2 linked regions of the Homo sapiens genome follow. The protein of the gene in region 2 purifies or fractionates together with the protein of the main gene of each other region. This does not show direct contact. Each region holds a gene or a part of one and is shown on either strand. Other genes may lie near its edges. The genes, in order: DNAJA4 and ZNF146.

Region 1 (3,818 bases), on a different chromosome or scaffold from region 2:
CAAGTTTTTTGTGACTTGGGGAAAAGAAATAAGCAGTAATGGCTAAAGACTGAGGTAACCCTAAGTTCGAATTGTAGTCTACCTGTCATGAATAAAATAATGACTAATATCCCTCCAAACAAGCTATAATTTACAGTAGTAGTCCATACAAACTGTAATCCACAGTGGAACTCAGCGAAGTTCTTACCAAAACATCACTTGAGCAGGAAACCCTTTGTAATATGGCTGTGCAATGAGAGGAACGATCCTTTGGAAGGGAGCTCAATCTGGGAGAATGAGGTGGAAAACACTGGGGAGTTCTATGCCTTTGCAGACCCTCAAGTCACCCCGGATTACTGGTCAGAGAAGCTGGCTGTGCCATGGGCCAAACCAGCAGCATTCTCCCTTGGCTTCTGTTGCTGCACTGAGGCTGCCGGGGACACAGAAGGATTTAGTTTTCTTTACAAGTAAGCACTTTGGTGGGAAAGCATTGCAAAAGTTGTCAACAGAAAATCATTAAAACCCTGAAGAACAAGGTGTGAGGGTCACAGGCAAACAGTTATCAGCATATGATTCAAACACTGGTTTGTCCTCACCACAGAGCTTGGAAGGTTCAGAAAACTTCCAAGAGAGATGATCAGACACTCACGTTCCATCCACTGAAGGGCACAGAACAGTAGGAACTAAGTTGGCCCTGTTAAGCAGGCACATGCAGCCATGTCCGATCCACGGATGTGCTTTTATTCTTTAAGAGGATCATCTAGAATCCTCAGAAATGTTATCTTAGCAGCCCTGAGATCATGCCCTCAATAACTCTGCCAAGGGAAGAGGGGAGAAACCACAGACCTAGAGATGAGTCAGGATGCCCACTTTGTGCCTTGGGGTTTGCTAGGGGGGCTAAGCTGCTAACTGGGCTGTGCCTTATTGGTGACACTGAATTATGGCAAAGCCACTAGAAGCACAAAGTATTGGTGCAATCACTGACATCTCAAAAGTATATCCTGAAAATAGAAATGAACAGATTCCATATGCAGACTAGAGGTGATTTATACTTAAAACATTTAAATATAAATTAAGCTATAACTTAAGTTACAACCAAAAGAAAAGCCAAAAAGACACTCAGCAATTAAGAATGCTGAACACATACACAGGACATCCCAAACACAAGGCCATTAAAGCGATGTCATTTTCATTGTGCCAACTTTACATTCATCATGTGCTAGTCCGGTGGGGCCACGCTGCCCCGCACCACGTCATGCCGTCTGGCACTGCACTCCAGCCTGGGGCCCGTCTTCGTCCTCCTCGTAGGCCTCCCTGTGCTGACGCCAGTTCTGCTCATTGGGACAAAACTCCTTCAGCTCCACCTGATCCATGTCATCTGTAATCCTCACTTTCTGTCGAGGAGGGAGTAAAGCTTCCAGCTGAGGAAGCTTTTCCAGAGAAAGCCAGTGTTTTTCAGGAAAGATTACCTGTAAAGGGTGAGGTGGGAAAGAAAGGTGGCTGTTTTTTCCCCTTCCAATTAAGGCATTTAATAATATGTCCATGACAATGAAACATAGTGAACTTACTAAAAACTGTATGATCAGAATCCCTTTTTCCAGGGGTGCTTTGTAGATGGGCATTCCTTCATCGCGCACGCATCTCAGGTCCCCGTGCTTTATCACCTCACCTGCCAGAGAAAGGGTCAATTAGGAAGGAGGAAGGCAGAGGGGCCTGCAGAGGTCGTTCTCCCTCATGGGAGAGCCTGCGGCAGGCCCTAGTGCCCCGTGGCAGTGGGCAAAGGAAACGTGGCATCTGACTGGAAAGCTGGCCCCAATCCCAGGTATCCTTGTCAGGTACTGCCTGGGGAAGGGGCTCAGGCTGAGACTCTGGCCTGTGCTCTGGGCTCCAGCAGTGTGTCAAGAGGGCAGCATGGTGCAGCTGCCATCACAGGTAGGTTTAAAACAAGTGAACTAGAAGTCATGACACCCAAGTCTGCCTAAAATGGGGCCAACACCTGTCACCCTGCCTCTTTGTGGGGTGACAGGTATCCCTACCACGAGGGGGACAGGAGTGCTCCCCACAGACAGGAAGAAGCCTCAATAGAGTCCAACCAGTCCCCTGCCTGGCATAAAAACTGGCTCTTGGCCACCTGCAGGTGACACCCAGGTTCCTTGGTAGGGAGCTCACTAGGTGGCTTGGCCACTGGCAGACTCCTTCATGGTCACAATGCACTTCCATACATGCTGCTGAGCTGGAGTCACCCTCCCGGCTGGCACCCGCTGGGTCTTACAGCTACGTGACTTTGGAAGGCATCAGAGGAGTTCAGACCCCAAGAACTCTAAGGCGTTCTCCCAAGTCAGAAACTTCCCTCTAAGCATGGAAAAGGAAAGGGACAAAAGGGTTTCTGATAAAGCATGCTCTTCAGCTCAGCGATGAAAATGGACAAAGACAGAAAGAAATGTTCGGAAAAAATGGGGGAGACGGTGGAGGGGAATGGAAACACTAATTTCTTCAGCAGTCCACTTCCATACGGGACTATGTAGAAAGTGAGCTGTCTCTTCAAGAGGAAATCTTTAAAGAGGAGGTTTTAAAAATAAAGTAAGCCAATGACTATCCTTGAGATTCATTCGCAGGCAGGGCTGTGGTTCAGACATGGCCTTCAGAGCCTACTGACTGTGCAGGACAGCAACCCCTTAGCTAAACTGCTCCAGGCTGCTGGCTTTTTGTGTTCCTGTTTATTCTTTTTTTTTGAAATACAGTCATGGCCAGGCACGGTGGCTCACGCCTGTAATCCCAGCACTTTGGGAGGCCGAGGCGGGCGGATCACGAGGTCAGGAGTTCGAGACCAGGTTGATCAACATAGTGAAACCCCGTCTCTACTAAAAAAAAAAAAAAAAAAAAAAAATAGAAAAACTAGCCAGGAATGGTGGTGTGTGCCTGTAATCCCAGCTACTTGGGAGGCTGAGGCAGGAGAATGGCGTGAACCCGGGAAGCAGAGTGTACAGTGAGCCAAGATCACGCCATTGCACTCCAGCCTGGGCGACAGAGCGAGACTCCGTCTCAAAAAAAAAAGAAATACAGTCATGCACAGCATAGTGACCTTTCAGTCAACAACATTTATGAAGATGGTTGCAAAGATTACACCAAACTTTTACTGCACCTTTCCTATGTTCAGATACTCACATACTCAGCATCGTACTACAACTGCCCACAGTATTCAGTACAGCAACCTGCTGTGCAGGTTTTAGCCCAGGAGCAACAGGCTATGCCACACAGCCTAGGGTGTAGCAGGCTATGCTATCTAGGTCTGTGTGAGTACATTCTATGGTGTTCACACCACAACGACATCGCCAAACAATGCATCTCTCAGAACATATCCCCTTCGTTAAGTTACATATGACTGGTTTTTCTGTCTCCCCATTCCTATCAGGTGTCGCTTCTTGCTGCTCTCAAGCCCTACTCCCCATGCTTCTGCTTCTAGCTTGCTGGGAGCTGGGAAACTGACCAAGCATGGAAAACTACAGGTAAGAGAAGAAGACCACGAGTTAGGCTCTCCCGGCAGGTAAATACCTGCCTGCAGGCAGGGCCATCACACCCTTGTGTGGCTCCAAAATCACTTTTTTAATTAATCCAATCCTCAGCAATGCTCATAACAGGCTAAAAGGCTCTGGGGAAGAAGGCATTTCAACAGCAGAAAAGAGGAAGAAGAGGGAGAAGAGAAAATGGAGAAACAAGAAATAAGCCAACACAAAAGAGGGGTGAAGAAAAGAGAGGGTGCAAAAGAGAACAAAGTAAAAACAAAAACAAAACAAAAAGGACAAACAAATCCCCAAAGAACTCTCCAACGGCAGGTTTCC
Region 2 (3,818 bases):
CTATCTGTGCATCATCTTCTCAGGCTTCTTCTAAAATGGAGTACAAAGAACCATAGCACAAAGGAGTTAAATTCATAAAGTGCCCAGAACCATGGCTGCCATATGGTAAGCCCTTCATTTTACCTTTATATTACTATCACTTTTATTTGTTAATTTTCCCATTACTAGCAATAAAATTTTTTGAGATTAACTCTGGTAGCCCATCTCCCAATATGAAAATAATCTATATTATTAATGCTTCCAACTAAATTATGAGAAGGGAACCCTACTTGAGGTGATCTAGGTAGAAAATTAACATTCATGGGTCCACAAAGCTGAAAGTACTCTTGAAAAATAACCTTTCCATTTCAGAATTTAGCAAGTTGTATAACAAATAATGAAGAATTGCCAAATAGAAGAAAAAGATGAAAATTAGAAAGTCTACCTGGGATGCTAAGGAAGAAAAATAATGTTCATCTTTCTTTCTTCTTTTTTTTTTTTTGAGACGGAATTTCGCTCGTTATCCAGGCTGGAGTGCAGTGGTGCGATCTCGGCTCACTGCAGCCTCCGCCTCCTGGGTTCAAGCAATTCTCTAGCCTCAGCCTCCTGAGTAACTGGGATTACAGGTGTGCACCACCATACCTGGCTAAATAATGCTCATCTTTCTAAGAAAAGGAATAGATCAACCAACAAGTGCTTCCTCCCAAAACCCCATTAAAATTATAAGGAGAAAATGGTACAAATTCCCTTATTCAAAAGGAATAAAGGATGGTGGCTGAAAAAAAAGTGTAAGGAACAGTTGAACATGCACTGTCCAGTCACGAGAACAAAGGACTGGACACACCTTCATATGAAATGGAAGTTTATCCCCTGCAGAATTTTAATCAGAGCTCAGGGGCATTCAGCAAATGAGATGACAGGAATGAGCTGCTATACGGAAATCAGAGATTAAACCCACATATATGGTAAGACCTGCAGCACCATTCTGCAGCTGAAGACAAAAGATGCTGGCTGGCCGGGCGCAGTGGCTCACGCCTGTAATCCCAGCACGTTGGGAGGCCGAGGTGGGCGGATCACGAGGTCAGGAGATCAAGACCATCCTGGCTAACACAGTGAAACCCCATCTCTACTAAAAATACAAAAAATTAGCCGGGCGTGGTGGCGAGCAACCAGATGCAAAGCTTGAACCCTGATTACATTCTGTAATTTTAAAAAACTATGGAAGGCATTCTGGGGACAATTGGAAAAATGTGAACATAGACTGGGTAGTCTAATATTAGGACAACATGGTTAATCTTCTAAGGTGTGAAACGGTATTTTGTTATATGGGAGAGCTCCCTTTTTTTTTGAGACAGTCTTGCTCTGTCGCCCAGGCTGTGTGGGGAAAAGAAAGAGAGATCAGACTGTTACTGTGTCTGTGTAGAAAGAAGTAGACATAAGAGACTCCATTTTGTTCTGTACTAAGAAAAATTATTCTGCCTTGAGATGCTGTTAATCTGTAACCCTACCCCCAACCCTGTGCTCACTGAAACATGTGCTGTGTCAACTCAGCGTTAAATGGATTAAGGGCTGTGCAGGATGTGCTTTGTTAAACAAATGCTTGAAGGCAGCATGCTCCTTAAGAGTCATCACCACTCCCTAATCTCAAGTACCCAGAGACACAACACACTACAGAAGGCCGCAGGGACCTCTGCCTAGGAAAGCCAGGTATTGTCCAAGGTTTCTCCCCATGTGATAGTCTGAAATATGGCCCCGCGGGAAGGGAAAGACCTGACCGTCCCCCAGTCCGACACCCGTAAAGGGTCTGTGCTGAGGAGGATTAGTAAAAAAGGAAGACCTCTTTGCAGTTGAGATAAGAGGAAGGCATCTGTCTCCTGCTCTTCCCTGGGCAATGGAATGTCTCCGTGTAAAGCTGGATTGTATATTCCATCTACTGAGATAGGGGAAAACCGCCTTAGGGCTGGAGGTGGGACATGCTGGCAGCAACACTGCTCTTTAAGGCATTGAGATGTTTATGTATATGCACATCAAAAGCACAGCACTTTTTTCTTTACCTTGTTTATGATGCAGAGACATTTGTTCACGTTTTCCTGCTGACCTTCTCTCCACTATTACCCTATTGTCCTGCCACATCCCCCTCTCCGAGAAACGCCCGATAATGATCAATAAATACTAAGGGAACTCAAGAGGCCGGTCCTCTTGAGAGGTCCTCCGTATGCAGGTCCTCCCTAACGCCGGTCCCCTGGGCCCATTTTTCTTTCTCTATACTTTGTTTCTGTGTCTCTTTCTTTTCCAAGTCAGTCCTTCCACCTGACGAGAAACGCCCACAGCTGTGGAGGGGAAACCCACCCCTTCAGGCTGGTGTGCAGTGGTGCGATCTCGACTCACTGCAACCTCGGCCTCCTGGCTTCAAGTGATTCTTGAAGCCTCAACCTCCCAAGTAGCTGGGATTACAGGCATGCATCACCACGCCTAATTTTTGTATTTTTAGTAGAGACAGGATTTCACTATGTTGGCCAGGCTGGTCTGGAACTCCTGACATCTGGTGATCTGCCCGTATCTGCCTCCCAAGTGCTGGCACTACAGGCGTGAGCCACCACGCCTGGCCAGGAGCTGCTTTTCTTGGTAGAAAATACATATTTAATTTTTTAGAAGTAAAACATCATGATGCCTCAGCACACAAAATAAACACATGGATACGGACATACAAAAGCGTGGCAAAATATTAATTATTCAATCCACATGGGGGGTACATAAGAGATTCTTTAACTATTCCTTCAGCATTTGTTATATTTAAAAAATGTTCATATGAAAAAATAATTGAATGGCTGGGCATGGTGACTCACACCTGTAATCCCAGCACTGTGGGGCCAAGAGTTTAAGACAAGCCTGGCCAACATGGTGAAACCTCGTCTCTACTAAAAATACAAAAAATTAGCTGGATGTGGTGGCATGCTCCTATAATCCCAGCTACTCAAGAGGCTGAGACAGGAGAATCACTTGAAACCGGGAGGTGGAGGTTGTAGTGAGCCCAGATCGCACCACTGCACTCCAGCCTGGGTGACAGAGGGAGACTATGTCTCGGGAAAAAAAAAAAAAAGAAAAAAGAAAAAAGAACTGATCAGTATTTCCACACAAAAAATTCATAGATTATTTAACAGCAACTCATGCGTTCTCAAACTACTGATCAGAAAAATAAAACATGGACCTTCCTTTTAACCGGATTATAATGCAGACTATAGACGGCAAAATCTAAAACCATGTTTAAGGTATCATTTGCTGAGAACTTGTAAGTTCCTCTGGAAAATATGAAGTAATGGACAAGCAGAGGGAAGAGGAAAAAAGGCAGAAGTAACAAACATTTTAATGAAAACTGAATTCAAGTTTATATAAGTAGTACCTACATAAGTAGAATATTTCATAATCAAAGGCCAAGATTCAAAAATTTTATAAAGAGAAAGAAATATGTTCATATTTGTAGTCACATAATTTGTATGTTTTTTTTTTTTTTTTTTGAGATGGAGTCTCGCTCTGTTGCCCAGGCCGGAGTGCAGTCTCAGCTCACTGCAACCTCCGCCTCCCAGGTTCAACCGATTCTCCTGCCTCAGCCTCCCGAGTAGCTGGGACGATAGGTGTGCATCACCACGCCCAGCTAGTTTTTGTATTTTTAATAGAAACGGGGTTTTACCATGTTGGCCAGGCCAGTCTCAAACTCTTGACCTCAGGTGATCTGCCTGCCTCGGCCTCCCAAAGTGTTGGGATTACAGGGGTGAACCACCGAGTCTGGCCTTTTTTTTTTTAAATAAAAAAGATACGGGGTCTCAACACGCTGCCCAGGC

What was found.
Region 1: the proteins of ZNF146 (region 2) and DNAJA4 purify together in Homo sapiens (affinity purification with mass spectrometry, with the first as the bait; one large-scale study listed by BioGRID). This does not show direct contact.

What each region holds. Positions count from the first base shown.
Region 1 is NC_000015.10:78,277,875-78,281,692, reverse strand, and holds part of DNAJA4 (dnaJ homolog subfamily A member 4), read right to left. Parts: intron 3,486-3,818; exon of another isoform or gene 2,893-3,485; intron 1,649-2,892; coding exon 1,548-1,648; intron 1,449-1,547; coding exon 1,233-1,448; 3' UTR 1-1,232.
Region 2 is NC_000019.10:36,231,871-36,235,688, reverse strand, and holds part of ZNF146 (zinc finger protein OZF), read right to left. Parts: intron 106-3,818; exon of another isoform or gene 31-105; 5' UTR 1-30.